7 linked regions of the Homo sapiens genome follow. The protein of the gene in region 7 purifies or fractionates together with the protein of the main gene of each other region. This does not show direct contact. Each region holds a gene or a part of one and is shown on either strand. Other genes may lie near its edges.

Region 1 (4,107 bases), on a different chromosome or scaffold from region 7:
GCATAGGAGTTAGGTCCCCACATGCCCAGCCGGTCACCTTTGCAGAGGCCAATGCTCAGGAGGCCAGAAGCAGCTTTGTCCACCTAGTGTAAAAGATGGGGCGCAAGGGGTGAAAGGGGGCAAGCAGGAAGGGGCCCAAGACTCCCACCCTCAGCCCTTAGCCCGGAGTTCTCATCACAGTCACTGGGGACAAAGGGACAGGCAGATTCCCAGCCTCAGTGGGTCTGCCCTGGGGCCTGCATAGTTAACAGGTGCCCCAGGAGCTGCTGATACAGGAGGCATTGGACCCCTTGTGCGTCAGTCCTGTCTCCTTCTCCTGCCATCCCTCGGGGTTCTCTGGCAGCCCTAGCACATTGCCCCATAGCCAGGTGCCCACGCTCCTGGTTCTGCCCAGCTAGGGCAGCTTGGGAGCTAGTACTTGCCCACTTTGAGGTTTCCAGGTCAGGACCCACCTCCTCCTTGAGTTGGGCAAAGGTCAACCTGACGTCTTCATGGAGGACGACCAAGGCCTCTCGTTCTGGGACCCTCTGTGCTGTGGTCTCCAGGCACTGGCCCACAGTCTTGCTGTTAAGATGCTTTTTGGTGCACCCCTGAACGTAGCTGAGGCCTCCGATGGGCGTGGAGACCATGCGATCCACCTCTCTGGAACTGTAGGGAGAGGAGCTATGGGTTTGACTGTCCCAGATCAGTCTCCCTGGAACCAAGGGCATGGCACACCCAGCCAAGCCAGGGGGTAGGCTGCTGACAATGTGTTAGAGACCACTAGGTTTCCTCCAGATCTTCTTGTAAGCCTAAAATCCCCCAGACCCTTTTCCCAACCTCAAGCCTAATCCCAAGGCAGCAGGACAGGGACAAGGTTACACCAAGCTGGAGCAAAGGGCCCTCCTTCGCCTTCCCGGGAAAGGTGAGATGCCATAGTGAAGCCTGGGAGAGCCTGCCTGTGCAGACAGACAGATCTTACAAAGCAGGACCATGCCTTCACCCCTAGCCCCTGCCTCCTGGAGAATAAACAGGTCACTGGGGTCCTTCCTGAGGAACCAGGGAAGCGTGCCTGGACCCTGGGCTTGAATCCAAGGTCTTAGGATTTTAGACTCCTTGGTGGGCCAGTTTTTCTCCTGAGGGCCTGAAAGCCAAAGACAGAATAGGAAAGGGATAAAGGAGAGGGCAGATGGAGGCCCTAAGAGAGGCAGCTGGGCGGCCCCTGTTATTCCACAGGCCTGTAGGTGTTCAGTGCCAGGTGCTAAAGATCCTGGGCACCTGCAGATGAAGAAGAAAGCCCCTATATGCCAAATGGCACCTGGGCTCCAGCTCCCACTCTCAGATGATGTCACAAGGCAGGCAGGCAGTTTCTGTCTCCAGGGAATTAAGAAGCTGGCTGAAAGCAGCCAGTTAAGGCAAAGGGGCCAGATGTCAGATAAGCAAGGGGCACCAAGAGCCTGAGAGTACTGAGCTGGGGATGTTGAGTGGAGGAAGCAGCCAGCTCGGGACCTGGCTCGGGTTCTAGTCTGGGGCCGGGACTCTTCACCTCTCACATGTGGCTACCTATCCATTTCAGTGCACAGGTGGAAACAGGTCTGGGTAGAGGCCTGGGCAGTCACGGGAGTAGTAACCTACTCCCCAGTTTTCTCCATCGGCCTTTCAGGAACTACCCATCTCCTCCCAGCCCTGCCAGGTAAGAGACAACCCCTAAGTAAGGGCACGTCAAGCTGGAGGAGAACCTGCACTTCCATTACTGCTCCACTTAACTTTCCCCACCTTTTATTAACTGTGGCACCTGAGCCAGGCATGGTGGCTCACACCTGTAAAGTCTTGCCAGCACTTTGGGAGGCTGCAGCAGGAGGATCGCTTGAGCCCAGGAGTTCGAGATCAGCCTGGGCAATATAGGGAAACCCTGTCTCTATGAAACATTTTAAACAATTAACCAGGTATGGTGGCGCATGCCTGTAGTCCCAGCTACTCCGGAGGTTGAAGGGGGAGGATCACTCGAGCCTGGGAGGCAGAGGTTGCAGTGAGTCATGGTTGCACCACTGCACTTGAGCCTGGGTGACAGAGAGAGGCCCTGTCTCAAACAACAAACCAATAAAACCCAGTGGGACCTGGCAAGTTATCTGTTTACTCTTTGGCTCGAAGGGGATGAAGAGACTGCCTTGCCTATTCCATAGCAGGGCCATGACGTTCAAGCGTGAACAGGCCTGCAAAGGTGCTTTGCGAATGGTGAAGTGCTCTGTAGTCGACAGGCATTTTACCATCCATTCATGGCATTTATCGACCATGCTTTCGACACACATTCAGTGAGCACCCGTATGTGCCAAGTACTATGCTAGGACTAGAGATAGAACAAGCCACAGTCCTTCTTCTAAGAAGCTCCCTGTCTCTGGGGAAATTAGACATATTAGCTCTTCGTGGGTGGGAACAGCCTAGAAAATCAGGAAATGGGAGCCATGAGGCAGACTGTGGGGGGAATCCCAGCCCATCTGAGGCCCATTGTCTGTCCCCTCAAAGCTGGGTTAAGGCAGCCTCTCTTAGACCTGGGCCCTGGGGCCACCCATACTATGGCCTCCTCAGCCCTACGGAGTACTTAGCCAACATTTATTCCTCCAACAAATATTTAGGAAACACCCACCACAGAGAGGGCCCAATGGTAAAAAATGAACAAAGCCAAATACAGTCCCTGTCCTTGCAGAGATAAGGGTCTGGTGGGAAAGACAGGAGTGCAGTCAACCTTGGTAATGATGAATGTATGTTTAGAAAGCTGAGATAAGGAAGGGGCCGTGGTCCTAGGAGCACCTGTAAGACGGAATCTGGGATCACCTGGGGCTCCAAGGAAAACTCCCTTAAGAAATTTATGCCTAAGCTGACAGCTGAAGGGTGAGGAAGTATTAATCATCAGAGAAGGGAGAGGAGGGCTTTTCCAGCAGAGGAGAGCTTGTCTCTGTGGCTGGGGCATGGAAAATGAAAGGGAGTGCTGTGAGAACGGGAGGGTGACTGGAACTTGAACCCAGCTGAAACCAAAGGGTCCAGAGCAGAGGACATTGGGCCTGGAAGAATGAGGAGAGCCCCCAAACTCCAGGTTCTGGGGTTGGGGTTTTCTCCACCCATGGGCCCAAGTGGACCCACATCATTTATGAAGTGAAGAGGGATGGATGGATGTTGGAACCAGGATCTGTGTTTATGGGCTGATCCCTCCCTTGTCCCTCCAGGGACATCAGAAGGAACCTTCTCAACCAGTGTCACTCCCTCCTCCAAGTGACAGTTTTTCAAGATGTGGTCCATGGAGAGCTGCTTCGGAATCATCTCAGGATCTCACAAAGAATGCAAATTCCTGGGCCCCTGCAATGCCTACTCATTGCAGAGCTTCTGGGGAGTGGACCGGGAGAATCTGAATTTTTAACAGAATCCCATGTGATTCTGATGTGGGACTGGGTGAGGATTCTATGAATCACACTTTGACAACCACTCTCTTGGCCATCTAAGCCACCCCAACCGCCTTTGACTCATCTATTCAAGCAAGCTTTAGTGAGCACCTACTATGTGCCAGCCCTGTGCCAGGTACTAGGGATACAGGGATGGATAAGACACTGCTCCCAGCCCTCTAAGTAGCCATAGTGTGGTAGGAAGAGAAATGTATGTAAACAAATCATTTCAACTCTCGGATTAAGGCTATTCGGTAAAGAAGAGAACCAAAAGAAGATAACCTACTCTCTCCTAGGGGTACATGGGACAGAAGTGGGGTTTCTTTCCCCACACTCCTCACATCTCAACTACCAACCTCAGCTCCTCCTGCTTCTCCCCCTTGTAATTTCATTCAATTCCATATGTCTATGAAATCTGTGGGCCCTCAGGGTCTACTGAGATCTGCCAAGGTCTAGAGTGGAAAACTGGTCCTCTTCCCATCCCACTAGTGATGAAGGAAGATGCTGCATGTCCCTCCAAACCTCCACACCCTCCTGGCCAGAGATGGCCACCAATGGTGTGGTCCTCAGCCTAGGGGGCCCTGGGAGCTTCTACCTGGATTCCACCAGGGACTGCCTAGCCCATATCCAATGATGGCCTGGAAGGTCTGGAAGCCAGAGCACATCTTCTCCTATGGGAACAGAATTTGCTCTG
Region 2 (4,107 bases), on a different chromosome or scaffold from region 7:
AGTCAAAACAAAACTCTTGTAATGCAATTAATTAACTTTATGTCTTCCCATGACTCAAGTTTTGTTAAATATGCCCAAAAACTTTGATTGGCAGTTTCTTCGGTTAATTATTCCTATAGAATGTATTTTAAGAAATCTATACAAATTGGATATATGCTTGGTAATTCTCCAGTTTCTAGGAGGTACCTATTTCTACCGTTTCAAGTGATGAAGTGAAAATAATTTACATTCGATAGTGTTACTGATAACAAACCTACTTAAGAGATATGTTGCTTTTTACTTAAGGGATAGTGTTGATAGATAAATTAGAATGTATAGATAGGTTTGTGAAAGTCTAAATAATGGTTGTATAGATATGTATATATGGTTCACATATCTGGATCTGTGTATTTGATTTTGTACTTTAAATGTGACAAATAAACCTTTTGGGAGAAAACTTTGTTGTTTATTAAACATTATAAGGAATATTGCCTTCTACAGAAATACAAAAATTGCCTGCTCTATGAGGGCTTGGCAGAGACTTCTCAAAATAATGTACTAGATGAGAAAGATTAAAAAGCAGATTCCAACTAAGGTATGCCATTTCTTTTTTTTTTTTTTTCTTTTCTTTTTGAGATAGGGTCTCACTCTGTCACCCCAGCTGGAGTGCTGTGGTGTGATCATGGCTCACTGCAGACTGGACCTCTGGGCTCAGGTGATTCTCCCATCGCAACCTCCTAAGTAGCTGGGACTACAGATTCACACCACCATGCCCGGCTAATTTAAAATTTTTTTTTTTTGTAAAGACACGGTTTTATCATGTTGCCCAGACTGGTAATGAACTCCTGAGCTCAAGCAGTCTGCCCACCTTGGCCTCCCAGAGTGTTTGTTAGGATTACAGGCCTGAACTACTGCACCTGGCCAGGTATGTAATTTCTTATGTATAGATTAAGACTTCTTAAAAAAAAATCAATAGCTTAGTTTCAGTTCTTGGCACAAGCCATTAGTTTTAGGTGAGAAACTACGTAAGAATTTTTAGGGCTTGGAAGAATTTAAACTGATACTCGAATATAGTTTTTTGGTTTGGACTACTCAATATACCTGGGCCTTAATGCTGCCTAGGGAATATGTGTGAAATTTCATAGTTCCATAGATGGAGAGGCAGCTAGGAGCCTTGACCGTGTCCTGCTGCCCACTGCAATGTCAGGTTCCATAGGCTGTATGGCTGTACATACAGCACAGAGGAAACTGCAAACTGGAAAACTTCTCACTACTCTCTAGGACCTGGCCTGAATTCCTAGTCACCTACCCACCTGGTGGGACCATAGAATGCTGGAAGACTGCCTTTGCCTCATGTATTTCAGGTCTACACTCTACTATCTGCTCTCCATGCCAATTTTCCTATGAAATCATTTTCTAAGGAGGGGAGATGATGGGGTAAAGTGCAGGGCAGTAAGGTAGAAACAGTAATACTTAGCATTTTCACAAGAGCCCCTGAAACATCTGAACTCTGTCCACCAAAGGCTGGTTCCATCTGTAACACCACTGCCAGCTGTGGGGACTCGAGTGCAATCGCTTCTCTAATTAGGTTAAGAAACAAATGCTTATTATCAAGCATCATGTAGAAAAATAATTATTTTAACGAGGGAAAAAGCTGTTGGAAACCATATAATTTCAGACTTAGAATAAAACTTATTTTTTCCTGCAGGAATTTATCACTGTGCAAAACCAGGTGTGATAAAGCTGGCTGTATTTTACCAGGCAGGTGGGAGGACTCGCTTAGCATGTTCTTTTGTTGTTCTGAATTAAAAAAAAAACATTTTAGGTTCAGAGGTACAAGTGTGCAGGTTTGTTATTTAGCACGTTCTTATCACCCACTTCTCTGATCAACCAAGGACAAACACTTTTCCTTTCCATTGCCTGAAGTGATGACCACAGGTAAATGCCGTGTCCTACCATGCCTTTGACTCATTCCAAAATGCCTCTGGGAGGAAGAGTAAGAGTAAGGAAGCTTAGTCTAGGGGTCAGACTTGGAGAGTGGCTCAGCATTTAATGCTGATGGGTTGAAAAGGAAAAATAACACTGCCAGATTATTCCTGGAGAATCAACTACTACTTTATGGGCACTGTAAATTGTCAGGACTAATTTTATTAAAAGTGCATAATTAAGACTTGCGGGTTCATCATACTTTCATTTAAAATTCAGATCCCTTTATGGGATTTCTTTCATGTGATTTTGGTAATGTACCACTGCTGAGAGCATACAAAACATGACTGAGGAAAAAAGCTATTTATGTCAAACTTGCCCCACTGCACACGTTCTTCCCTGTGTCTTCACAGATACCAATATTACTTACACTGCATCTCATGAACACTTTTTGACTGAAAGATGTAATATATTGGTACCAAACCGGATGGAGAATAAGGTGTAGCCAATACCTTGAATGTAACTTTTCACAATGCTAATAGGTAAAGAAATAAAATCACCATAGCCTATTGTCTTTATTATCAAAGTTTATTGTTGGGGTCAGTTCCTATCTACTAGGGAGTACAACTATATCTCAATATGTGCTATAGTAATTCTAGGGTAACAGCCATTCTGCAAAATAGTTGTACTGGGGCTCTGTTAGGCATAGATCATAATTAAGTCAGTGGAAGAATGAGCCCAGAGAAACCCTGGCAGCAGAGCCGTTACTCTAGGAAAGTTCCAGTGCTATGCAACCTGTAAGGCATCATCGCTCAGCTGATGATGAGACTCACAGAGGTGTTGGTGGAGCGAAACAGGAGTTGAACCCATTTTCTACTCTTCTTGGCAGGGTAACTATGGCTCCAAGGAAGGAACCCAAAATTAGGTCTTGTAAAATCTTTTAAGCTCCCAAAGCAAGAGAAATAAGACATGAAGAAAGAGCCAGTAACTAGGACAGATGAAAAATTAGGTGGAATTGGAGGGAATGGAAACTTCTGGAATGCAAAGTAGCTGGGTTTAGACGCCATTTGAGATGACCAAGAATACAGTACAGGTAAAAGCAAATGGGGCAACAATTCAAATATTGAGTTGTTCAAATACTAGAGGTTAAGTAAAATTTCCCCCCTTGGGGGAAAACTGGTTGAAAAGGATCAGAAAGGTGAATCAGTAACAGGACAATGAGTACCTGAGTAGAAATAGGTGTTTCAAGATGCCAAGAACAGTTTAAATATACAGGTGAGCTGAGTCTACAAGAAGGAAAAGTGGTTATGGCAGCCTGTTTCCAGATCTGATCATTGGAATGACATTTCTAGCAATGGCTTTGTCTGTGAGGTCCTGGCATATTTTGTGTAGCACAGATCCCTTTAAAGGAATGTTTTCGTAACACTCAAACTTATGTGGGAATGCAAATTACTATAGTGTAAAAATTCAATGACTTCCCACCTATTCCTGCAGGGCAGGAGATCAGAAGTCTTAAAACAGCTGTGGCTAAAAGCCCAAGCCCTCCCACTGCCCCGTGATAAAAATATTAAAGAAATTAACAAAACAAGCATCAGATGAGTCAATGGGCCTTGTACCATGTAGACAACAGATAATTTATAGCGACTTCTTCTGCAGGCAGCCTGAGAAACAAGAGCTTGCATACGAAATCCTGCCCTATCATTAAATATAATAATGAAAAAAACAGGGCCATTAAATGAGACCCTAAAAAAGTCTAGCTGCCAATCAGGTTGGGAAGATAAATAAAACAGCATAGTTTATTTTAACCTATATCTTCCACACTAACCTAGTTTGTCTATAGAAAAGCCATCTGCTGGCACCAGGCCAGTATGTCTTAATTTTCTTGTTATTCTAAGTATCTCATTTTTCCAAAAGAGGAAATGTGTAAGTAGCAGGTGTACATAGGTGACACATTTCTACAAAGCCTTCTCTGTAGTCTTGACCTGTGTGGGGACAGGGTCTACTTTTGGAAGCATTTTCAAAGGCAGAATAAAACTTTACTTGAGGTTTTCTCCATAGAAGGACACCAGAGTTGTGCCCATATGATGAGTCCCTCGTTGGTGTTGAATAAATTGTCTTTTCTCCAGGAAATAACCTTTGTTCTTTCATATTTACAGGTTTCTTTTGATGGACAGATGGAGTAATCTCCAAAACAAGAAATGG
Region 3 (4,107 bases), on a different chromosome or scaffold from region 7:
CTGACATTGGTCATTGAGTGTAAGGCAAATAATGATAGGAGTGGTTGGGACAGTAACAAAGGTTTACAGCAATGGCATGGAGGCACTGAGAACTAGAGTAAGTAACCTGTTGTCCTGGGGGAAGGTGGCCTTTTATTTTTTATTTTTTTGAGACAGTCTCACTCTGTTGCCCAGGCTGGAGTGCAGTGGCGTGATTTTGACTCACTGCAACCTCTGCCTCCCGCGTTCAAGTGAGTCTGCTGTCTCAGCCTCCTGAGTAGCTGGTACTACAGGCATGCACCATCACGCCCAGCTAATTTTTGTATTTTCAGTATAGACAGGGTTTCACTATGTTGGCCATGCTGGTCTCAAACTCCTGACCTCAGGTGATCCGCCTACCTCGGCCTCCCACATTGCTGGGATTACAGGCATAAGCCACCACGCCAGGCCAGGAAGGTAGCTTTTTAAAGATGAGCCAGCCTGGTGTAGTGGCTCTCACCTATAATCCCAGCACTTTGGGAGGCCCAGGTGGGAGGATGACTTGAAGCCAGCATGGGCAACAAAATGAGACCCCTGTCTCTAAAAAAATTTAAAAATCAGCCAGGTATGGTGGCACACACCAGTAGTCCCAGCTACTTGGGAAACTGAGGCAGTTTGAGGCTGCAGTGAGCCGTGATTATGCCACTGCACTCTAGTTTGGCAGCAGAGCAAGACCCTTTCTCAAAAGAAAAATAAGTAAAAATAGAAGTGAGCTGGGAGGCCAGGCATGGTGGCTCACACCTGCAATTCCAGCACTTTGGGAGGCCAAAGTAGGAGGATCACTTGAGCTTGGGAGTTCAAGACCAGCCTGGGCAACAAAGAGAGACCCCCATCTCTTTAAAAAAAAATACTAATTTTAAAAAATGAGCTGGGAAGTGAAGGAGAGGACACTAGTGCCCTGCAGAGGGAACAGCCAAAGCAGAGGCCTGTAGCATATTGGCAAGAAGCTGGAGTGAGCGGGAAGGGAGGGTGGCGACTGAGGCTGGAGAACCACCTGGGTCCGATTGTGAAGGGCCTTGCCAGTTTGACAGTTGCATTGTCATGACAACTTGAGGCCTGGCCCTGCCACTTATTAATGGCATGCCTGACCGTGAGCATCATCGTGTGACCGCCGAGCCTCAATGGGTGGTGACCACTGACAGGGAATACCAGAGGGGTGAGCATCTTGATTGCAGGACAGTGCAGGCCTTGCACCTCGAGAGACAGAAGTGGCTACGACTTGGGAGTCAGTGATAATTGAGTGGTGACAAGGCCCAGTTGTGGTTGGAGCTTGTGGGATAGAAGCTGATTTGGCCCAGGATTGATGATGCAGATTTGGAGAAGGTCAAGGGAAGGGCCTCCAGAGAGTGGGGTGGGGGCCCAGAAACGTCATGAAACTGCTTTGCAGGGCAGGTTGTTGGTTTCTCCCGTGTTACTAGTTGACCAAGAACTTGACCTGCAGGGGCTGCTCAGCCTTGACTCAGAGTGTCAGGAGGAACAGGGCCGCAAAGCAGAAGTTCTCTTTTTAAACCTTTTAAAATTTATTTTTATTGTGGTTTTGTTGTTGTTTTTGAGGCAGGATCTCACTCTGTCGCCCACGCTGGACTGCAGTGGCACAATCATAGCTAACTGCAGTATTGACCTCCCAGGCTCTAGTGATCCTCCCAGCTGAGCCCCCCGATTAGCTGGGATTGCATACAGGTGTGCATCACCATTCCTGGGTAATTTTTAATTTTTTTTTTTTTTGTAATGATGGCATCTCTCTGTGCTGCCCAGGCTGGTCTTGAACTCCAGGCTTAAGCAGTCCTCCCACCTTGGCCTCTGAAAGCGCTGGGATTAAAGGCATGAGTCGCCACACTCAGACAATTTATTTTTAAATTTGCATGTAGGAAAATTCATTTTTTCGAGTAGAGTTCTCTGAGTTTTGACAAACGGATAAAGTTGTTTGATTACCACCATAATAAAGATTGGAAAGTTCGCTCTCCCACAAACAGAAATACTCCCTCCTCCTGTCCCTGTGTAATCGACTTTTCCCCTCACTCCCTAACCCCAGCGACCACAGATCCATCCCTATGGTTTTGCCTTTTCCAGGAAGGCACAGAAATGATGTGGCAAGATGTGTTTGAGATTCACACAAGTAGCATGAATTGGTGATACCTTTTATTGCCAGGTGGTATTCTGTTGTATGGTGTATCCCAGTTTATCCATGAATGGCTTGAAGAATATTTGGGTTGTTGTAGTTTTGGATGATTATGAATAATGCCGCTCTGCACATTTATATACAGATTTTTGTGTGAATATAGATTTTCCTTTCTATTGCCTTAATACTAGGAGTAGGATTGCTGGATCCCATGCTAAGTGTATATTTCACCATAAGAAACTGCCAATCTGTTTTCCAAAGTGGCTGTCACATTTCACATTTTTGCATTCCCACCAGCAGTGCATGAATATTCTGGCTTCTCCACATCCCTGCCAGCACTTGACATTGTCTGTTTTGTTGCTGTTGGTTGTTTTTTGTTTTATTTTGCTTTAGCCATTCTAATAAGTGGGTAGCGGTGTCTCGATGTGGTTTTAATTTGACTAATGATGTTGAGCATCTTTTCATGTGCCTGTCTGCCATCCATATATATTCTTTGGTATAGTATCTGTTCAAATCTTTTGCCATTTTTGAAACCAGGTTGTTTGCTCATTATGTTGTTTTTGGTTTTTGGAGATGGAGTCTGGCCCTATCGCCCAGTTTGGAGTACAGTGGCGCCATCTCGGCTCATTGCAACCTCTGCCTCCCAGGTTCAAGCGATTCTCCTGCCTCAGCCTCCCCAGTAACTGAGATTACAGATGCCCACCACCACGCCTTGCTAATTTTTTTTTTGTTGTATTTTTGTAGAGATGGGGTTTCACCATGTTGGCCGGACTGGTCTCAAACTCCTGACCTCAGGTGATCCACCCACCTCGGCCTCCCAAAGTGCTGGAATTCCAGGCATGAGCCAGCACACTAGCCTGCTTCTGTTTTGAGAGCTTAAAAAAAAGTGTTCTGGGCCAGGCGTGGTGGCTCACGCCTGTAATCCCAGCACTTTGGGAGGCCGAGGTGGGCAGATGGGCAGATCACGAGGTCAGGAGATGGAGACCATCCTGGCTAACACGGTGAAACCCCGTCTCTACTAAAAATACAAAAAATTAGCTGGGCATGGTGGCGGGCGCCTGTAGTCCCAGCTACTTGGGAGGCTGAGGCAGGAGAATGGCATGAACCCGGGAGGTGGAGCTTGCAGTGAGCGGAGATCATGCCACTGCACTCCAGCCTGGGTGACAGAGCAAGACTCCATTTCAAAAAAAAAAAAAAAAGGGTTCTGGGTTGGGTGAGGTGGCTTACGCCTATAATTCTAATACTTTGAGAGGCCAAGATGGGAGGATCACTTGACACCAGGAATTCAAGACCAGCGTGGGCAACATAGTGAGACCCTATCTCGACAAAAAATAAAAAATTAGCCAGAAGGCTGAGGCAGGAGGATTGCTTGAACCCAAGAGTTTGTGGCTGCAGTGAGCTATGATTATGGCATTGCACTTCAGCCTGGGCAGTGGAGTGAGACTTTGACTCAAAAAAAAAAAAAAGTGTTCTGACTACAAGTCCCTTTTGCAAATGTTTACTCCAGTTGGTGGATTTTAATTCTCCTAGCAGTATCTTTCACAGAGCAAAAGTTTCAAATTTTGATGATATCCAGTTTATCCATTTTTTTTTTTTTTTAACGAAGTGGGCTTTTGGTGTTGTGTCTGAGAAATCTTTCCCCAGCCCAATGCCACAAAGATTTTTCTCCAAGAAATTTTATGTTTTTACATTTTAAAACAGAGGTCGGCAGATTTTTTTTGTGTGAAGAGCCAGATGGTAAATATTCTCAGCTTTTTTGGCCATACGGTTGCTACTACTTAACTGTGTTATTGTAGTACAAAACTATCTATAGACAGACAATACATAAACAAATGAGACAAGCTGTATTCCAATAAAACTTTATTTATAACAACAGGCAATGGGCCAGATTTGTACCACAGGCCATGATGTGTGTTTCAGGAGGTCCACTTTTCCCAGACCTAGAGGATACCACACTGTGGACAGTAAGC
Region 4 (4,640 bases), about 33 Mb from region 7:
CCCTTCTTCCCTGGGCAAATTCCCCCCATCTTCCAAGACCCAATGCAGAAGACAGGTTCATTAGAAGCCCCTTCAGGGTACTTCCAGTGCCTAGAATCCAGCCTGACATTTTGGTTGAATAATTAATTAATCAGATCAAGGACCTCTTCCCTGAGTACCCAACATAGCCCCCCTCCCCAACGCCTGTGCTCCCTGCACACCTCCTCCATGCTATGTTGGAACTTCTTGAAGTCAGGCTTCATTTCTTTTGTTTCGTTTCTTTCTTTGTTTTCTCTTCTCTTTTTCTTTTTCTTTCTTTCTTTCTTTTTTTTTTTTTTTTTTCGAGACAAGAGTCTCACTGTCGCCCAGGCTGCAGTGCAGTGGTGCCGTCTCAGCTCACTGCAGCCTCCACCTCCCTGGTTCAAGTGATTCTCCTGCCTCAGCTGTCGGAGTAGCTGGGACTACAGGCACCCACCACCACACCCGGCTAATAGAGACAAGGTTTCACCATGTCAGCCAGGCTCATCTCGAATTCCTGACCTCAGGTGATCCGCCCGCCTCAGCCTCTCAAAGTGCTGGGATTAAAGGCGTAAGCCACTGTGCCCGGCTGCGTTTCTTTTTTCTTTTCTTTTCTTTCTTTCTTTCTTTCTTTCTTTTTTTTTTTTTTTTTTTTTTTGAGACAGAATCTTGCTCTGTCACCCAGGCTGGAGTGCAATGGCACCATCTCAGCTCACTGCAATCTCCGCCTCCCGGGTTCAAGAGATTCTCCTGCCTCAGCCTCCGGAGTCGCTGGGATTGCAGGCACCCGCCACCGTGCCCGGCTAATTTTTGTATTCTTAGTAGAGACGGGGTTTCACCACCTTGGCCAGGCTGGTCTCAAACTCCTGACCTCGTGATCCACCCGCCTCGGCCTTCCAAAGTGCTGGGATTACAGGCGTGAGCCACCGCGCCCGGCCTCCGGCCGCGTTTCTTTTCTTTTTTAGAGGAGTCAGGCTGGAGTGCCGTGGCACAATAGCTCACTGCAGCTTCGAACTCCTGGGCTCAAGTGCTCCTCCCGCCTCAGCCTCCTGAGTAGCTAGGACTGCAGGCGTGCACCACCACGCCCGGCTTTTTTTTTATTATTATTAATTTTTTTGTAGAGACGGGATCTTGTTGTATTGCCCAGGCTGGTCTCCAACTCGTAGCCTCAAGCGATCCTCCCACCTCGGCCTCCCAAAGTGCTGGGATTACAGCTGTGAGCCACCGCGCCTGGCACAGGCTTCATTTCTGATGGTCCTTCCTTTTTCCTTGATGCCTTTCTCTGTACCTGGCACATAGAGGTGCCTGGTACGTGTTTGTTGAATGAATGAATGAATGAGTGAATGAGCGAACATGCCATTTCACCTTATATATCTTGTGAACCTGCCAGGCCCGGGCCTGATGTCATAGCCTCTACCCCTGGCCCGAGTCTCCAGTCCCCTGCGTGTCTGCTGACCACAGCACGAACGCCAGCGCACTACCCTCCTCAACCCCAGCCCAGGCCCCTTCCCCGTCGGGGTCCCCCCAACCCTTTCCCCGCCCGCTTCCCCGCCCCGGGGCCGCTTAGCCTCCAGCTCAGCGGGAGGTATCCCCGCCCACGGCCAGGATTGGAGGATGGAGGCAACGCCCACCCCGCCGGGCGGCCTCCTATTGGCGCGGCCGTCGCCAGGGGTGGGGACAGGACCGGCGGCTGCTGACGCCATCCCGGCCAGAAAAGCCCTGGCCAGTGGCGGGCGCGACACTATCCGTGCGGCCAGGCGGAGGTGAGTGCGCGGCGGCCGGATGGGCGGGACGGGCGTGGAGGACGCCGAGCACCGTGGCGCGCGCTCACGTCCGCGTCCCCAAGGGCTGCGCTCCCTCAAGCGCAGTGCCCAGAACTCGGAGCCAGCCCGGCCCGGGGGACCCTGCTGGCCAAGGAGGTCGTCAGTCCGGTCTTGTCTTCCAGACCCGGAGGACCGAAGCTTCCGGACGACGAGGAACCGCCCAACATGGCCTCGGAGGTGAGTGGGACCTCGGGGACTCCGGTCCTCCTAGCCTCCAAAGGAGAGAGTGGGGGCGCCAGACCTGCCTCGGGCCACCCTGCTGGGAATCGCCCTCCAGGAAGCAATTTTGAAAATTACCTAGGAAGCCTGCACCCCCAGCCCTCCCGGGCGCATCATCTGGAGCCCAGCAGTCACCTTTACCAGGACTCACCAGTATCCGCAGGCAGCCCTTGTGGCAAACCCACCAACCCACACTACTAGGGGTAGAGTGGCTCTGCCCTCACCTCACAGTGATGCCTGCCTGGCCAGGAAAAGTGGCTCCCAAGCCTTCAGCCTTCCAACTCTTCCTTCCTTCTTACCACGTGTCCTCCTGTCAGGTCCCACCCCACACCACATCCCTTCTCCTGCTAGAGCAATTGTCCCTGTTTATAGAATAAAGCTCAGCCCCTAAGTGTTCTTGTCCTTGACTGTGGCATGTGGAAAGAGCCAGGAAAAAGGGGACGTCGCCTCGTGGCTCCAGCAACCCTGGTGCCTGGTCCCTTCCTGTCTCACTGGACCCTGCCTCTTAGGGTCAGTGGCTCCTGGCCTCTCCTCCTGACCACTGAGATGCTGGATTCCCAGGCAGAGGTTTTCCTTCCTTGGGCCATAGTTGATTTATCTGGCAATGGGGGTAATAATAGCTGTCGGCCTCACTCTGTAAGGCACTAGATTATGAGGCCATTGCTTTGGACCCTTCAGGTGAGAGGGGCTGTTCGCCTGATGCTTGATGAAGGGAACTCCGGGAAGCAGGAGGTCTGGGTTCCAGGCCCTTTTGGCCTTCATTAGCTAGCAATTCACTTCCTCTTTCTCAATGCCCTGCAAGCTCAGTGCCCTGCAAGCTTCTGGGTCATGGCAGGGGGGTAGGGCCTGGACTTTGGAGCCAAACAGACTTGGTTTCTGTACCAGTCACTTGAGCCCTTTAAACCTCTTTCCTCATTTGTGAAATAGGGGTAATATTGCCCACCTCATAAAAGGCCGTAATAACATATGTGAAATCCCTAGCACAGGGCTGAGCAACAGTAGGTGCTCAATAAATGGTGGCTAACCACAACAATACTGATATTTCTACTTTGGGAGGCCGAGGCGGGAGGACTGCTGAAGCCCAGGAATTCCAGACCAGCCAGGGCAATGTAATGAGACCCTGTCTCTACAAAAAGATTTTGAAAATTACCCAGGTGTGGTGGCGTACACCTGTAGTCTCACAGGAGGCGGAGGCATGAGGATTGCTTGAGCCCAGGAGTTTGAGACTGCAGTGAGCATGATCTCACCACTGCACTCCAGCCCAGGCAACAGAGTGAGATCCAGTTTCAAAAAAATAAAAATAAAAAAACCTGGCAGGCATGGTGGCTCACACCTGTAATCCCAGCACTTTGGGAGGTCGAGGTGGGCAGATCACCTGAGGTCAGGAGTTTGAGACCAGCCTGGCCAACATGGTGAAACCCCGTCTCTACTAAAAATGCAAAAATTAGCTGGGTGTAGTGGTGGGTGCCTGTAGTCCCAGCTATTCGGGAGGCTGAGGCAGGAGAATCGCTTGAACTCGGGAGGCGGAGGTTGCAGTGAGCTGAGATCGCACCACTGCACTCCAGCCTGGGCGACAAAGCAAGACTCCACCTCAAAAAAAGAAAAAAAACCCACAAGTCCCAAAACCAAAACTGGTATTTCCCATGTACATTCGACCTTAACTGTTGCTCATTCAACCCAGCCCAACTCAGTGCCCCATCCCCTGGCCCTGAAGAGACCATTCTGGCCCAGATGTGTCCTGGCTTGGAGTAGCACCTTCTGCTACCACACTAGGCCTCCACTCTCCTCAGTGCCCAAGGGGAGGCACCTCACTCTGATCTCCCTGTGGGGTCCTCTTATGCCTGCCAGTAAGGATAGGAGTTTGGTTCTAGAGCAGAGTGGTCTGGCTTCCAACAAGCCCAGTGTTCTAGGTGACCTCAGGTTGCCCCAGGCCTTCCTGTAGGTTGGCACTAATTGGTTTGGCTGCAGCTCCACTTATTAAGTAGTTATTTTTATTACTAACAACCTAGGCAGGGTGGCCCAGGAGCCCGCTGGGGGAGGCGGTGCCAGGCTCCTGGCTGAGGGGCAGGCTGGCCCCAATTCTGACTGGCTGGCTCCAGTGATCAGGACCAGGGCCCCACGTGGTGCTTTGCTGGAGATCTAGGCTTGGTGGGGCAGCTGTGGGGTAAGGGGCAGGACCAGCTCAAAGATGGGGTGGGGGCGGAGGCTGCCTCTGCAGGGCAGAGTCCTTTGGCAGTCGGGACTGTTGGGCATAGAGGAGTCAGCTCACAGCTCAGGGCCAGAGCACTGGAGAGGTCTCTGGGGTGCATACAGGAACCAGGAGTGGAGCTGAAGCATGTCCTATCCCCTGCCAGCCCTCCCTTAGTAACAGCTGGCATTTCTCGAGTCCTTCCTGAGCACCAGGCACCGTGTTATGTATGCAATTTGCAAATATTATCTGATTAAATGCTCACAATAAGGCTATCAGAGAGGTACTATTATTATCCTTATCTTATTATTATTATTATTATTATTTTTAAGAAGGAGTCTTGCTCTGTCGCCCAAGCTGGAGTACAATGGCGCCATCTCTGCTCACCGCAACCTCTACCTCCAGGATTCAAG
Region 5 (4,107 bases), on a different chromosome or scaffold from region 7:
ATCCTGACTCTAATACTATTTGTGTGACCCTGAGGAAGATTTCTTTGCATCTCAGTTTTCTCACATGTGAAGTGGGACTAGCCATAGCATTTTTGTATGGTGTTATAAAGAATAAATTAGGTAATGTGCACAAAGAATGGGTTTTAGAGTCCAGAGCTCAGTAAATGCTCAATAAATAAATCTTTGTTGCTATTATTTTTCCACGATCTATTAGGGGTTTGCGTGTCTGCTCTGATGAACAGCTATTTCATGCTTTATGATGCCCTTGCTGATGGAAATCTTGTATGGAGGTAATATAGGAAGCATAATAGGAGAGAAGCCCCTCTCTTCAGATCTGCCATGTGTAGCAATGTAATTTTATTGACAAGATTGTCTTGAGATATAATGTTTTAAAAATAAGTGAAATCTTAAACTGTCATCACAGTAGCCCAGTTTGGATGATGAAATTATAATCTTTGTTTGAATAATATTTTAAAAGTGCAAGCATTTGTTTTCCCTCAGAATAAATCCTCCTCCACCCTACCCTGTTCATGAATTATGCCCTTGTGTACTGTTCACTTCAGGATACGTAACAGCATAAATCAAAGGTAATAGTCTGTTTCCGGCTTTGAATTAAAGTCAGAAAGAACTCTATTATAGAAAAACTACTTGGGAGAAGCTGTGATGTATAAGAGCAAGGATTCCCGGCTTACGTTGCGAATCACAGACTGATTGGTCAGACACCATTTTTGCAGGCCTCCTGTGAAGATGGCTGGATCCCAGAGAAGAAATGACTACGTGGTGTATGTTTAGGTGGATGAGTCTGCCTTGGATCCTGAGCTTTCAGAGCAGCAGAATGATTCCTATGCAAGTAGAAATGATTGTGCTGCATATTTAGGCAGGCAAGGTCTTAGAAAGTGTCACTTCCAAGCCAGTATGCATGGACAGAGTAGTTGTCTTATGATGTCTATGTATGTCATTACAGTAACAGAGAGACAGTGGGCCTGAGATTTTCATGACTACACATGGGCTCTACCTGTGGCCTTGATGGTAAGTCCCAAGATGGCAACAGTTACAAGCAGCTAGTTCTGCCCAAGAAGAACCAGGAAAGACTATATAGGGGGAAATATGAAATCTTGAAATTAATAACTAAAAAAAAAGACTGTCTAAAAAATTGAGAAAACCTGTATGTAGAAAGCCTGTTCTCAACTGACGTGTGTGGATGGTGCTCGGGTCCGCAACCTGGGCCGGGGGTAGCTTGGGGCTTGGGTGAGAAACAACATTGGAGAATAGTAATGTAAATCTTAGTGTTCCCTATCCCTCAAGTTGCCGTGGGTCAGTATTTCCCTGCCCATACCTTCCCTGCCCATTCGTCTTGGGTGTAGGCCCCATAGCGCTGGATTGTAGGTCATACAGAGGTATCAGGGCAGAACAAAAGGCAAGCTGGGATAAGGGTTGATAACACACAAGTGTAAATTCACTTTCCCACCTCTGTGTTATCTTCTCCTAGGAAAGGGTATCTATAACCTACATTTATTGCTGAGTAGGGAAGAAAGTCATAGGTTTATTATAGCTATGATAAATGCTCTAAAGAAATAGAAAGGTACCTATGAAGGCAAACAATGAGAAAATATGATCTATTCTGGGAGGAGGGTATTAGTGAGAACTTGCTCAAGGAATAGATGAGACTGGTACCTCGTGGTTGAACTTATTTGGGGACAGAATTGAGATGGAAAAATTTGATATCAAAGGAAGTATCAAAACCCTTGATGTGGTTAAGAGCATGGATAGTGAAACTAACCTCTGATGTATGGTGAGAGAGCAAAAGAGAAAGGATTGCAAAGAAACTGGAATGTAGAGGATGAACATATTGGTAATAATAATACTGGTGGAATTGTTATTCAGGAAAAAATAGCAATTATTCCTGTTCATATCTCAAATCATTGTATGTTGTTTATTTAAAGGGAGACATGGTAGAAGATATCAAATATAAAAATGTTATCCTTCTGGTTTTCAAATCAAAACCAGGAATAACGCATATCACACACAAAACTCATCAATGTGGCCAATTTTCCATAACATTAGGAAACCCGTTCCCAATGAAGTTAATCAGTATCAAATCACCTTACAATAGCCATGACATTAGTACCCTGACACAAGGTGCACAGGACCTAAGGAAATAATTATAAAGCTACTCTGAGGGTAATGAAAGAAGATCTGAGAGACATTTGTTCTTACTATGTTCATTGTAAATTCACAGAATACTAGAAACAACATAAGCCAAATAACGTAGGATCATTTTATAATGTATGGAATAACCATGCAATTTTTCTGGTACAATAAAGTAATTTAAATCTATATTGTATGGTTGAATGGCAGTTCAAGATATATTAATAAAAAGCATGAGTTATAGAAAAATATGCGTAATGTGATTTACTCTGAGAGAATATAATAAGACTCTTTGTATATACATAATGAAAGGTGTAAAGTCAGAAAGACCATGTACTGAAATGTGGCATTAGATAAAGATTTCTGATAGTTAAAAATTAATTATTTTTGCTTATGTACCTTCTTTTCCTAAATTTTTAAAGATGGTATTATTTGAGTTATAATAAATGAAAGAGAAAGAATCAGTGATAGTGTTATGGTTGGCTCTGTTTTTTCCCACCTTGTTCTACCTTAAAGTATTATTTTCGTGGTGTATTGAGGGAAAAACAAAAAGGTAAGCCAAAAGGAAAATAAAATTAAAAAGATATCTAATTATACCTGCTATGGAATAGAGATGATAAAAATAGAATTTTAATTTTGGATAGGACCTCAAAATACACACTTGATAAATAAATGACTGATTTGGTTAAATTAAAGCATTGTATGTAGTAGGGGATTGGTGAGGTGCTTTCAAGGTTGTGTTAATCCTTGTCATTACATTGTAGTGAGGGGAATGTATTGGGAAGAGGGAACTTGTACCGTGGTTAAGAAACTGCTGCTTGGTGTTGATGGAGGCATCTGAGGAGTGTGGGGATGGCTCTCAGCTGGGCCTATGCTGGTCATGAACGGTCCTGGAAAATGACTCCCTTCCTTCAGTATCTGCATCCTCATGAAGTCATTCATTTTGGAGATTGTGTCTTCACTTTTCTAAAGGAAAATAGATGTTTGTTCTTTTTTTCTAGTTAATGTTTTTCAAGATCAGATGAAACACATCTTTTCCTTTTTTCTTTTTTAAATAGGATGTTCACTTTGCCAGTTTCTCTGTTTTTCCCTGAGTTGCAGGAGGAATAATACCACATATTCAGATACTTCTATCACTCAGCCTTCTCTCATCCCAGTCAGGATTAAAAACTCAGATAACTGAAATTGCATTGTCTGGGGATGGAATACTCAGTCTTCACGTCCTGTAAAACTGGACTGAGTTATTTGGTCAGGTACAACTCTTAGGGCTATTTTGGGGGCAGCATGGCTTGCAATAAAGTTGGCTACATTTATGGACATTTATTAACTAGGCCTTTCTCATCAATTAGATACACAAACCAGTCTCTCTCAAGTGCTCTTCAGCATACAAGAAACCCAGATCTCCATCCTTTAGGGATCTCTGATCATAGCCATAATAAGAAGATTCTCTCAAATTCACAATTCCTCAGGGAAGGTTCTATGATCACTACAGTATGGATCAGGCAATCAGAATCTTTCAGAGTTTTTAGCTGTATTCAGAAGAATTTAATATTCCACCTAAAGCATTCCCATTAGCTATATTTTTATACATTTTTCAAGTAAAATTGGGGAATATCTCTAAAATCACATACCTTGACTACTTTTAATTAAACCAATGGAAGTCCAAAAAATATTCATCCTATTTGGCCAATGTGGCACATTATTTTAGCAGTTTTCCCATTCAGTAACCTAATTTTTTAAGTGGCAATTGTTGATAGAGAGGTACACAAAAGAACTGCTTGTAGTGAGCTCACATGGAGAACAGCTTCTTGATTAGAACAGTCTCTGACCACCACTGAGCACCTGGACTATGGAAATAAACCCCAAACAAAACACTGTATTTTCAAAATTGTTTAAAAATAAACTGCAGACATTTTAACATTTGCACACCTACTGTGGATTCAATCTATGCTCATTAAA
Region 6 (4,646 bases), about 56 Mb from region 7:
CTGGAGGGAGTTGGATACTTTGGGATCTATTGAGAAAAATATAATAGCTACATGGGACACAAGTCTGGAAATATATACATCAAAATATTACCAGTAATTATGTCTCTAAGTGGTGAAACTTTTAGTGACTACTTTCTTTTTGCTTCTCTGTACACTTTAAACTTTTCTATAAAGATTAGTTAACATAATTATTCAAAACTCTAAAAAACATTACAAACTATGCCACTTTCACTGACTGCATCCCTCCTAGCCCCAAACTGAACAGACTTTCACAGGGCAATAACATATCAAGGTGCTCTGATAATGAAGTCCACAGAAAATTTTCCCTATAACTGAGAATCAGGAAAGGCTCTGCTTCCTTCAAGGCCATTAACATTTGGGGGATCAATGAATGAATGAATGAATGAAGTTGCCATGTATGTTTTACTTTCAAAAGACAAGAACCATGTAACTGACCAAGTTTACCTTTCTAGAAACAAATTTGGGACTCAACTACAAAAATATAGGCCTGCAATGACCTATAAGGGAGCCGCTACACAGAGTGGCTATTGGAATATAAATTAATTAAATATAGCACATTTTCATAATCACAGAAAATTCTATTGGATAACACTGAAACACTTCATTCTTTTTTTCCCCTGGAATAGTTTCTTGTACTTATACTTTCTCTCATCTCAATTCCTGGCCATATTTATCTTCTATTTATTTGTTACTATTCTGTGATTTTGTTGCAAATGACCTTAATTCCTTTGTGGATCAATTTGGGGCATTGTACTTTGGAAATATCAGTGTGTATATATGTCACTGTTCCTGAGAGTTCAACCTTCATTTCTGACCATAAGGCAGATCTAGCAGCTCATGTAATGTAGCTATTTCCTCACAGCTCAAAGACGGAAGAGAGGCCGGGTGAAATGGCTCACGCCTGTAATCCCAGCACTTTGGGGAGGCCATGGTGGGTGGATTACTTGAGGTCAGGAGTTCGAGACCAACCTAGCCAACATGGCAAAACCCTGTCTCTACTAAAAGTATAAAAATTAGCTGGTCATGGTGGTGCGTGCCTGTAATCCCAGCTACTTAGGAAGCTGAGGAATGAGAATCACTTGAACCCAGGGGGCGGAGGTTGCAGTGAGCCAAGATGGCGCCACTGCACTCCAGCCTGGGCGACACAGTGAGACTCCATCTCAAAAAAAAAAAAAAAAGACTCAAGAGGACATTGTCAGGAACTAAGCTCCCCTGTCACAAAGGCACTATATTCAGTGTTTTTTTTTTTAAATACACAAAAAGGTATACACTGTCCATTAATGGAAAGTTTCACTATTTGATTAAAGCTTAATTTGAAGCTGAGTAATGCAATGTCTTTTTCAAATTCCAAAATACATGGCTATCAACTTATTTCTAAAATCTTAAATATATGATTTACCACAAAAAACAAATGGCCCAACCTGTTACTACTGATAAATATATGATCATGTCATCAGAGTCCTGGATACGCCAAAGAGAATCAGAAATGAAAATGCGCGCAGCTCCTGCACAGTGGGATTCCCTGTCAGCCCACGGTTCTGATGGAGTGTCGCCTCTACATAGAAGTCAGTGCAATTTTGAGTATTTTACCAGATTTTCAGTTCTAGAAAAAATGACTGGGAGTAATAAGCAGTGTAGATCAAAAACTAAATACAATTATAACAAAGATGAAAATTAATAGATGTGGCCCAAAGTGGCAAATCTTTGACTTTAATCACATGCTAACTGGATAGGCAGGGGGTACAAAGAATAAAAAAGTAAAGATCGGCCGGGCGCGGTGACTCATGCCACGCCTGTTATAATCCCAGCACTTTGGGAGGCCGAGGCGGGTGGATCACCTGAGGTCAGAAGAATTGCTTGAACCCAGCAGGTGGAAGTTGCAGTGAGCCGAGATCGCGCCACTGTACTCCAGCCTGGTGACAGGGCGAGGCTCTGTCTCAAAAAAAAAAAAAAAAAAAAATTACATATGAAATGTGGGAAAACACACTGAGAATTATTCCTAAAAAAGTTGAAGTATAATTAGAGACCCTATTGTAATTTTTAGCTCTCTGGCTACAGAATTTCCCTTCTGATACTTTGTCTAACATTTGACTTGTTTTTCTGGAATGCATCCCGTTAAGGGAAGGATGAGCATATTTATCAATACAATCTTTTAGGAAATAATTAGGAATATACCAATACCTTTATTTCCATAATTTTAATATCTTCTTGGGAATCGTACTATAGAAATTACATTAATGATGGAAAAACTTTCAGCACAGTATTGCTTCCTTTGTAGGTGGTGATGATGACAGCTAACATTTACTGAATCCTTCCCATGCTGAAAACCCTATTGTAAGCTATTTATGTTCGCTAAGTCACTTATTCTTCAGGGCTATCCTACTAAGTAAGCATTATGATTACCCCCACTTTTACAGGTGAGAAAATCGAGGCAACAAGAGGTTGGTTAACGTGCCCAAGATCAGATCGCACAGCGGTATAATAGGATGGAAAACTCCTATCACATAATGAACGTTAAGTGAAAAAAATTAGTATCCAAAACTGTAAGTCTGATGTCTCATTCTTTTTATAATTTAAGTAGTTTATAAATACCCTCATTATTAGCCATATTTCTGAGCACTTCATATGTAGAGTGCACTTTACAGAACACTGTCATGTAACCCTCACACCGTCTACGAAATAAGTGATAGTTTCCAGTTTCCAAAAACGAAAGCGGGGCTAGGAGAGGCCAAGTGCCTCGCGTGGCGCCTCAGGATTCGCCCCAGCGGAGCAGACCCCAGGGCATCCCAGGCGGGTCCCGGCCGAGCTAGCGGCCCTGCGGTGGCTACGCCCGGGCCCAGCCGCTCGCGCTCCTGGAGCCGCCGGACTACGCGGCACGCGGACGCCGAGCCTGCCCTCTTGGGTCTACATAAAAACCGAAACTACGGGCAGTCTTAACCGAAATGGAGACTTAATTTTTTAGACTGTCTTTTGTGTAGTTGAGAAAGCCCCTTGCCGGGACCCGCGCTGCTGGGCCTCCGACCGCGTCCTCACTCCGGGCCCGGGCGGGGCGGGGCGGGGCAGGCGGCGCCCAGGCTGCGTCCCGGCTCTGGCGGCCGCGGGCCCGGGCCTCCTGCGGGCCTGGGGCTTCGAGCTCAGGCCCTAGCGCTCTATGGAAGCCGCGCGCGACCCCCGCTCCCCTGCGCGCGACCCCCGTTCCCCGCGCGCGCCTCACCTGACGCGGGCACCGCTCTCCGTGCAGCCTCCGGGCGCCACCGGCTTTGCGGACCGGGGCGGGATCCCAGCTCCGATTGGCTGCCCGGCTGGGGGGCGGGGGCCCCGAAGCGGGGTGGCGGAGACCGGGAGGGGACCGGAGGCGGTGGGGAAGGGAGTGGACGGAAGGGGAGGGAGGGTCCCGGCCTCGTGCGGTCGCGCGTGAGATCCTGGCCTCTGTGCCCTGGGTCTGGCGCCTGGGGCCGTAAGAACCGTCCGTGCGCCTGCCCTGTTCTCTGCACCCAGCTTGGTGGCGAGGGGTGGGTGGTGGGTGCCGGCCGACCGGAGGGCGTATGGAAGTGGCTGGGCCCCCTCACGGTGTGCCTGGCCCCCTCACGGTGTGCCTGGCCCCGGCGTGGGGGGGGCAGGCCCGGGGGGTGTCGCATCTCTCTTATCCGCCCCCCACTCACCACGTAGAACCCACTGGATCCCATTGGTATTTAGTGGCCCCGGGCCGACTGAACTGGCGCCGAGGCTTACCTGAGTCCTTCCTGTAAATGTGAGGAGCGGAGGGAATATTCCAGGAGGCCGGTGTCTGCGATGTCCTGCTCTTGGGTAGCTAGGAAGTAGTGAACGTGGTCTAGGGAACTGCCTGGGCTCTTATCCACCTGGGAATGGGTTTGTTGGGGATCCTGATGTGGGAGAAGCCAGGGAGCTTCTAGCCTAGTGGGGCTAGGGGAGAAAACAGGGAGAGGGGTGGATTAGGCTGAAGGAAAGAGATCTCTGATCTTAAAGGCAGCGTTCTGACGGGTAAGGTTGACTGGCATTTTCCCCAACAAAGAGTTCTAGTACCGTATTCCATGACCTGACAAGCCTGTTTAAGTGAGGTTTTGTTGAGTGCAAAGAGAGAAGGCTTGGCTTTGAATTTTTATCTCCAGGCGGGACCTGCCTCCTGAACTCCATACTCCTCTATCCAGCTGCCTCCTTAATACCTCCTCTTGGATCTCTAAAATACATTTCAATCTCAACACATCCAAATCTGTGCCCCTGATCTCTTCCCCATAGCATCACCATCTCGATGGCAACTCCATCTTCCAGTTGTCAAGGCCAGAAACCTTGCTGTTTCAGAAACCTTTCTCTCACATCCCACCTCCAGGGCCCAAAAATTCTGTTGGTTGGATCTCCCTAGCATACCCAGAGCCTGACCACTTCTTACCTCTGCCTCCATCATCTGCTACCTGGGTCATGACAGTGGTCTCTTCCCTGATATCCCTGCAGCCTGTCCCCATAAAGCAGCCAGAGTGACCTTAAAAAAAGAAAGCCAGATCAAATTCCTCCTCTGCCCAAAACCTTCCCAGTGGTTTCCCAAACTCAGAGTAAAACCCAAAGCCCTGCCTGATCTGCTCCTCTGTTACCCCTACAACCTCATCTGC
Region 7 (4,107 bases):
TTTGCAGAGGGGTGAAAAGGGACTTGACAGATGTGGGCGGAGGGGAGGGAGAGCAGTGCCCTTCCTGGACACCTGGAGGAACCGCACACCCCGAACTCTCGCCCTTTGCATTAGGCGTGGCCTTGCCATTGCACCTGCCAATAAAATGTGGGCAGAAATGTTAAGACCCAGGGCATGATTCCGCAGGTTCCGGCTCCCTCGTGGCATCTGGGACAGCATGCTGGGGACAGCTTCCATCAGAGCACCTCACAACACCCACACTGGACATAAAATGTGAGCAAGAAGTAAATATCTTTTTTTTTCTGTTTTTGAGATGGAGTCTCGGTGGCTCACCCTTGGCTCACTGCAACTTCTGCCTCTGGGTTCAAGCAATTCTCCTGCCTCAGCCTCCCGAGCAGCTGGGACCATGGGCGCCCACCACCACACCCGGCTAATTTTTGTATTTTTAGTAGAGATGGGGTTTTGCCATGTTGGCCAGGTTGGTCTTGAACCCCTGACCTCAGGTGATCTGCCCTCCTTGGCCTCCCAAATTGCTGGGATTACAGGTGTGAGCCACCGGGCCTGGCTCTTTTTTTTTTTTTTTTGAGACAGGTTTTGTGTCGCCGAGGCTGAAGTGCAGAGGTACGACCATAGCTCAGTTCAGAAGCCTCGACCTCCCATGCTTAAGTTATCCTCCTGCCTCAGCCTCCCAAGTAACTGGGATTATGAGATTACAGGTGCACCACCACACCCAGCTAATTTCTTAACTTTTTGTAGAGACAAGGGTCTCACACTGTGTTGCCCGGGCTGGTCTCAAACTCGTGGCCTCCAGTGATACTTCCACCTCAACCTCGCAAAGTGCTGGGATTTTAAGTGTGAGCCACCGCACCTGGCCAAATCTTTACTCTGTTAAGCAACTGCAGCCAGGGACTTTTGGTTACTGCAGCATAACCCAACCTGTTCTGCCCAATTCTGGTACATGAGAGAATGCAAGGAAGAAAAAAAGGAGGGAGGCAGGAGAAAGGAGGGAGGAGATGAGAGTTGCTGGGCTCTCTCGGAGGCCTGCTGTGACCACACACCCTCCCTCCCCTCCCTATTCCTCACCGCTGCCACCAGGCTGTTGTCTGTGATGAAGGTCAGCGCCAGCAGTGGTAGTGTTTCAGAGGCCAGAGTCGCGACGCTGAGGGGAGAGAGCTGTGAGTCACGGTGTCCCACTCCTCTGCACTCACCTCCTCCCCTGGGGATGGCCTCGACTCACGCCATCTTCTTGTCGGCATCAGCCAGGCAGACGGTGCTGTCGTGGCTTACCCAGGCCACGCGGCTCCCGCTGGCTGAGAAACAGACGCCATGTACCCAGCCGCAGCTACTGCTGGATTCGAACATCAGTTCCCCAAAGGGCATCTTGGAGCCCCACGGGGTGGGTGCCGGCCGTTCCTCCACCTCCTTGATGTAGGCTGAAAAGATCCTACCGGGATAGGCAAAGTAGAGGTAAAGTAGCCAGGCATGGTGGTGCGCACCTGTACTCTCAGCTACTCAGGAGGCTGAGGCGGGAGGATTGCTTGAACCCAGGAGGTCAAGGCTGCAGTGAGCTGTGATTGCGCTACTGTGCTCCAGTTTGGGCAACAGAGTGAGACTGTCTCAAAAAAAAAAAAAAATTTTTTTTAAAGGGTTAACAGGTGCCTGGGCATGGTGGCTGAAGCTTGTAATCCCAGCACTTTGGGAGGCTGAGGCAGATGCATCACTTGAAGTCAGGGGTTCGAGACCAGTCTGGCCAACATGGTGAAAACCCGTCTCTACATTTAAAAATACAAAAATTAGCCGGGCATGGTGGCATGCGCCTGTAGTTCCAGCTACTCAGGAGGCTAAGGCAGGAGAATCGCTTGATCGCTTGAACTCAGCAGGCGGAGGTTGCAGTGAGTCAATATCACGCCACTGCACTCCAGCCTGGGCGAAAGAGCGAGAGTCCGTCTCCAAAAAAAAAAAAAAAATCCTGTCTAGCTGGGCGTGGTAGTCTTGCTTGGGAGGCTGAGAAGCAAGAGGATCGCTTGAGTCCAGGATTTGGAGGCTGCAGTGAGCTATGATTGCACTACTGCATTCCAGCCCGGGCAACAGAGCAAGCCCCTAGCTCAAAAAAAATAAAAGAGGTGGGCAGAGGCCCATCCAGCTGAGACATGAAGGGTTCCCCAGGAACTAGAACCTTCAACCGACGCCCAGGTCATCCACTGGTAGCAGGTCTGGAATGTGTCTAGAAGCTGGGGTGTAGAGCTTTCAGGTGCGGCTCCCCGCTATGATGTCAGCAGTCAGTTGACGTCAGCCCCGCCCTCCCCCATGGCGCCCTGTCTCACCGACACTTGAAGTCACAGGAGCCGGCAGCCAGCAGCACATTGTTGGGGTGCCAGTCCAGGCTGAGGACGGTGGAGCGGATGGGCTTCTTGATGTGCTTGCAAACCCACCTGGGAACGGTGGTCAGGCAGACAGGGAGAGAGGGACAGGCAGGTGGGACTCATGGACCTCAGCACCAGGGACTCCAGGCTCCCACTGCTCCCTGCAGCCCACCAAAGACCCAGGAGAGAGGCGACTGGGCATTGCCAGCCCACAAGGCCGTCAGGGCCCTGGGGCGGCAGGGATGTGCTGTGTCGCTTCTGGAGTGGGAACTCTGTGCCCTCTATCCTTTAGGCCACACAGTCACCCTCAGAGCAGGCTCAGCAAAGTGATGCCATCACCAGAGGTCACACAACTACTAACTGGCCATGGTGGGATGCAAATTTGGGTCTCTCAGATGCTCCTGGCTGGCCTCTGCCCTCAGCCATGCAGGGGAGATTAAAAACTAAGACGTGGACTGGCAATCATGGCTCACACCTGTAGTCTCAGCACTTTGGGAGGCTGAGGTGGGAAGATTGCTTGAGGCCAGGAGTTCAAGACCAGCCTGGACAACGTGACAAGACCCTATCTCTACAAAATAAATAAATAAATGATTTGGGCCTGTAGTCCGAGCTACTCAGGAGGCTGAAGTGGTAGGATTACTTGAGCTCAGGAGGCTGAGGCTGCAGTGAGCTATGATCACAACACTGCACTCCAGCCTGAGCGACAGAGCAAGACCTTGTCTCAAAAATATATATATGGCCGGGCGCAGTGGTTCACGCCTGTAATCCCAGCACTTTGGGAGGCGGAGGCAGGAGGACCACCTGAGGTCAGGAGTTCAAGACCAGCCTGACCAACATGGAGAAACCCCATCTCTACTAAAAAATACAAAATTAGCCTGGCGTGGTGGTGCGTGCCTGTAGTCCCAGCTACTCAGTAGGCTGAGGCAGGAGAATTGCTTGAACCTGGGAGGCAGAGGTTGCGGTGAGCTGAGATTGTGCCACTGCACTCCAGCCTGGACGACAGAGCAAGACTGTGTCTCAAAAAAAAAAAAAAAAAAAAAATTGGCTGGGCACGGTGGCTCACGCCTGTAATCCCAACACTTTGGGAGGCCGAGGCGGGTGGATCATGAGGTCAGAAGTTCTAGACCAACCTGGCCAAGATGGTGAAACCCCATCTCTACTAAAAATATAAAAATTATCCGGGCATGGTAGCAGGTGCCTGTAATCCCAGCTACTTGGGAGGCTGAGGCAGAGAACTGCTCGAACCCGGCAGGCAGAGGCTGCCGTGAGCCAAGATCGTGCCACTGCACTCCAGCCTGGGTGACAGAGTGAGACTCCATCTGAAAAAAAAAAAAGGAACAAGATGTGGCTGCGAGCTCGTGAGTGGTGCCTTGAGAAAGTGACTGCTACAGGGCCTTTGCTAATCTGTAAAGTGGGGACAGTGACCGATGCCCAGTCCACGGAGCTGCAGGGAAGTCAGGACTAATGTGTGTGCAGGGCTTAGTGAGGTGCCCCCAGATGTGTTTCTGGTGTGGTGGGTGTCACTGGCAGTGAGAACATCCGGACGCTGCAGAGAGGCCCTTGCCTCATGAATGAGGCCCAGAGAGGAGAGGATGGACTCCCCCAGGGTGATGGGAACAGGGGTCCTGACATCCCATTTGGTGCTTCCCGGGGACACTCTAGTCCTGCCCCCGGTCCCTAACAGCCCACTCTGGCCCTGCCTAGGTACCCACCAGTCATTCTCCTGCTCGAAATAACAGATGGA

What was found.
Region 1: the proteins of ARPC1B (region 7) and ACSF2 fractionate together in Homo sapiens (co-fractionation; one large-scale study listed by BioGRID). This does not show direct contact.
Region 2: the proteins of ARPC1B (region 7) and POGK purify together in Homo sapiens (affinity purification with mass spectrometry; 3 studies listed by BioGRID and IntAct, with this or other methods). This does not show direct contact.
Region 3: the proteins of ARPC1B (region 7) and ELAVL1 purify together in Homo sapiens (affinity purification with western blotting; one study listed by BioGRID). This does not show direct contact.
Region 4: the proteins of ARPC1B (region 7) and ASL fractionate together in Homo sapiens (co-fractionation; one large-scale study listed by BioGRID). This does not show direct contact.
Region 5: the proteins of ARPC1B (region 7) and IFI16 purify together in Homo sapiens (affinity purification with western blotting; one study listed by BioGRID). This does not show direct contact.
Region 6: the proteins of ARPC1B (region 7) and BLVRA fractionate together in Homo sapiens (co-fractionation; one large-scale study listed by BioGRID). This does not show direct contact.

Annotation. Positions count from the first base shown.
Region 1 is NC_000017.11:50,457,218-50,461,324, reverse strand, and holds part of ACSF2 (medium-chain acyl-CoA ligase ACSF2, mitochondrial isoform 2 precursor), read right to left. Parts: intron 649-4,107; coding exon 453-648; intron 84-452; coding exon 1-83. UniProt on the Homo sapiens protein: Acyl-CoA synthases catalyze the initial reaction in fatty acid metabolism, by forming a thioester with CoA. Has some preference toward medium-chain substrates. Plays a role in adipocyte differentiation.
Region 2 is NC_000001.11:166,852,839-166,856,945, reverse strand, and holds the end of POGK (pogo transposable element with KRAB domain), read right to left. Parts: 3' UTR 587-4,107; downstream 1-586.
Region 3 is NC_000019.10:7,995,413-7,999,519, reverse strand, and holds part of ELAVL1 (ELAV-like protein 1), read left to right. Parts: intron 1-4,107. UniProt on the Homo sapiens protein: RNA-binding protein that binds to the 3'-UTR region of mRNAs and increases their stability.
Region 4 is NC_000007.14:66,074,097-66,078,736, forward strand, and holds the start of ASL (argininosuccinate lyase), read left to right. Parts: upstream 1-1,722; 5' UTR 1,723-1,760; exon of another isoform or gene 1,761-1,942; 5' UTR 1,943-1,985; coding exon 1,986-1,997; intron 1,998-4,640.
Region 5 is NC_000001.11:159,044,304-159,048,410, reverse strand, and holds part of IFI16 (gamma-interferon-inducible protein 16), read right to left. Parts: intron 3,115-4,107; coding exon 2,947-3,114; intron 1-2,946.
Region 6 is NC_000007.14:43,757,324-43,761,969, reverse strand, and holds the start of BLVRA (biliverdin reductase A), read right to left. Parts: upstream 3,291-4,646; 5' UTR 3,236-3,290; intron 1,954-3,235; exon of another isoform or gene 1,860-1,953; intron 1-1,859. UniProt on the Homo sapiens protein: Reduces the gamma-methene bridge of the open tetrapyrrole, biliverdin IXalpha, to bilirubin with the concomitant oxidation of a NADH or NADPH cofactor. Does not reduce bilirubin IXbeta.
Region 7 is NC_000007.14:99,388,230-99,392,336, reverse strand, and holds part of ARPC1B (actin-related protein 2/3 complex subunit 1B), read right to left. Parts: coding exon 4,076-4,107; intron 2,433-4,075; coding exon 2,325-2,432; intron 1,445-2,324; coding exon 1,238-1,444; intron 1,160-1,237; coding exon 1,084-1,159; intron 1-1,083. UniProt on the Homo sapiens protein: Component of the Arp2/3 complex, a multiprotein complex that mediates actin polymerization upon stimulation by nucleation-promoting factor (NPF).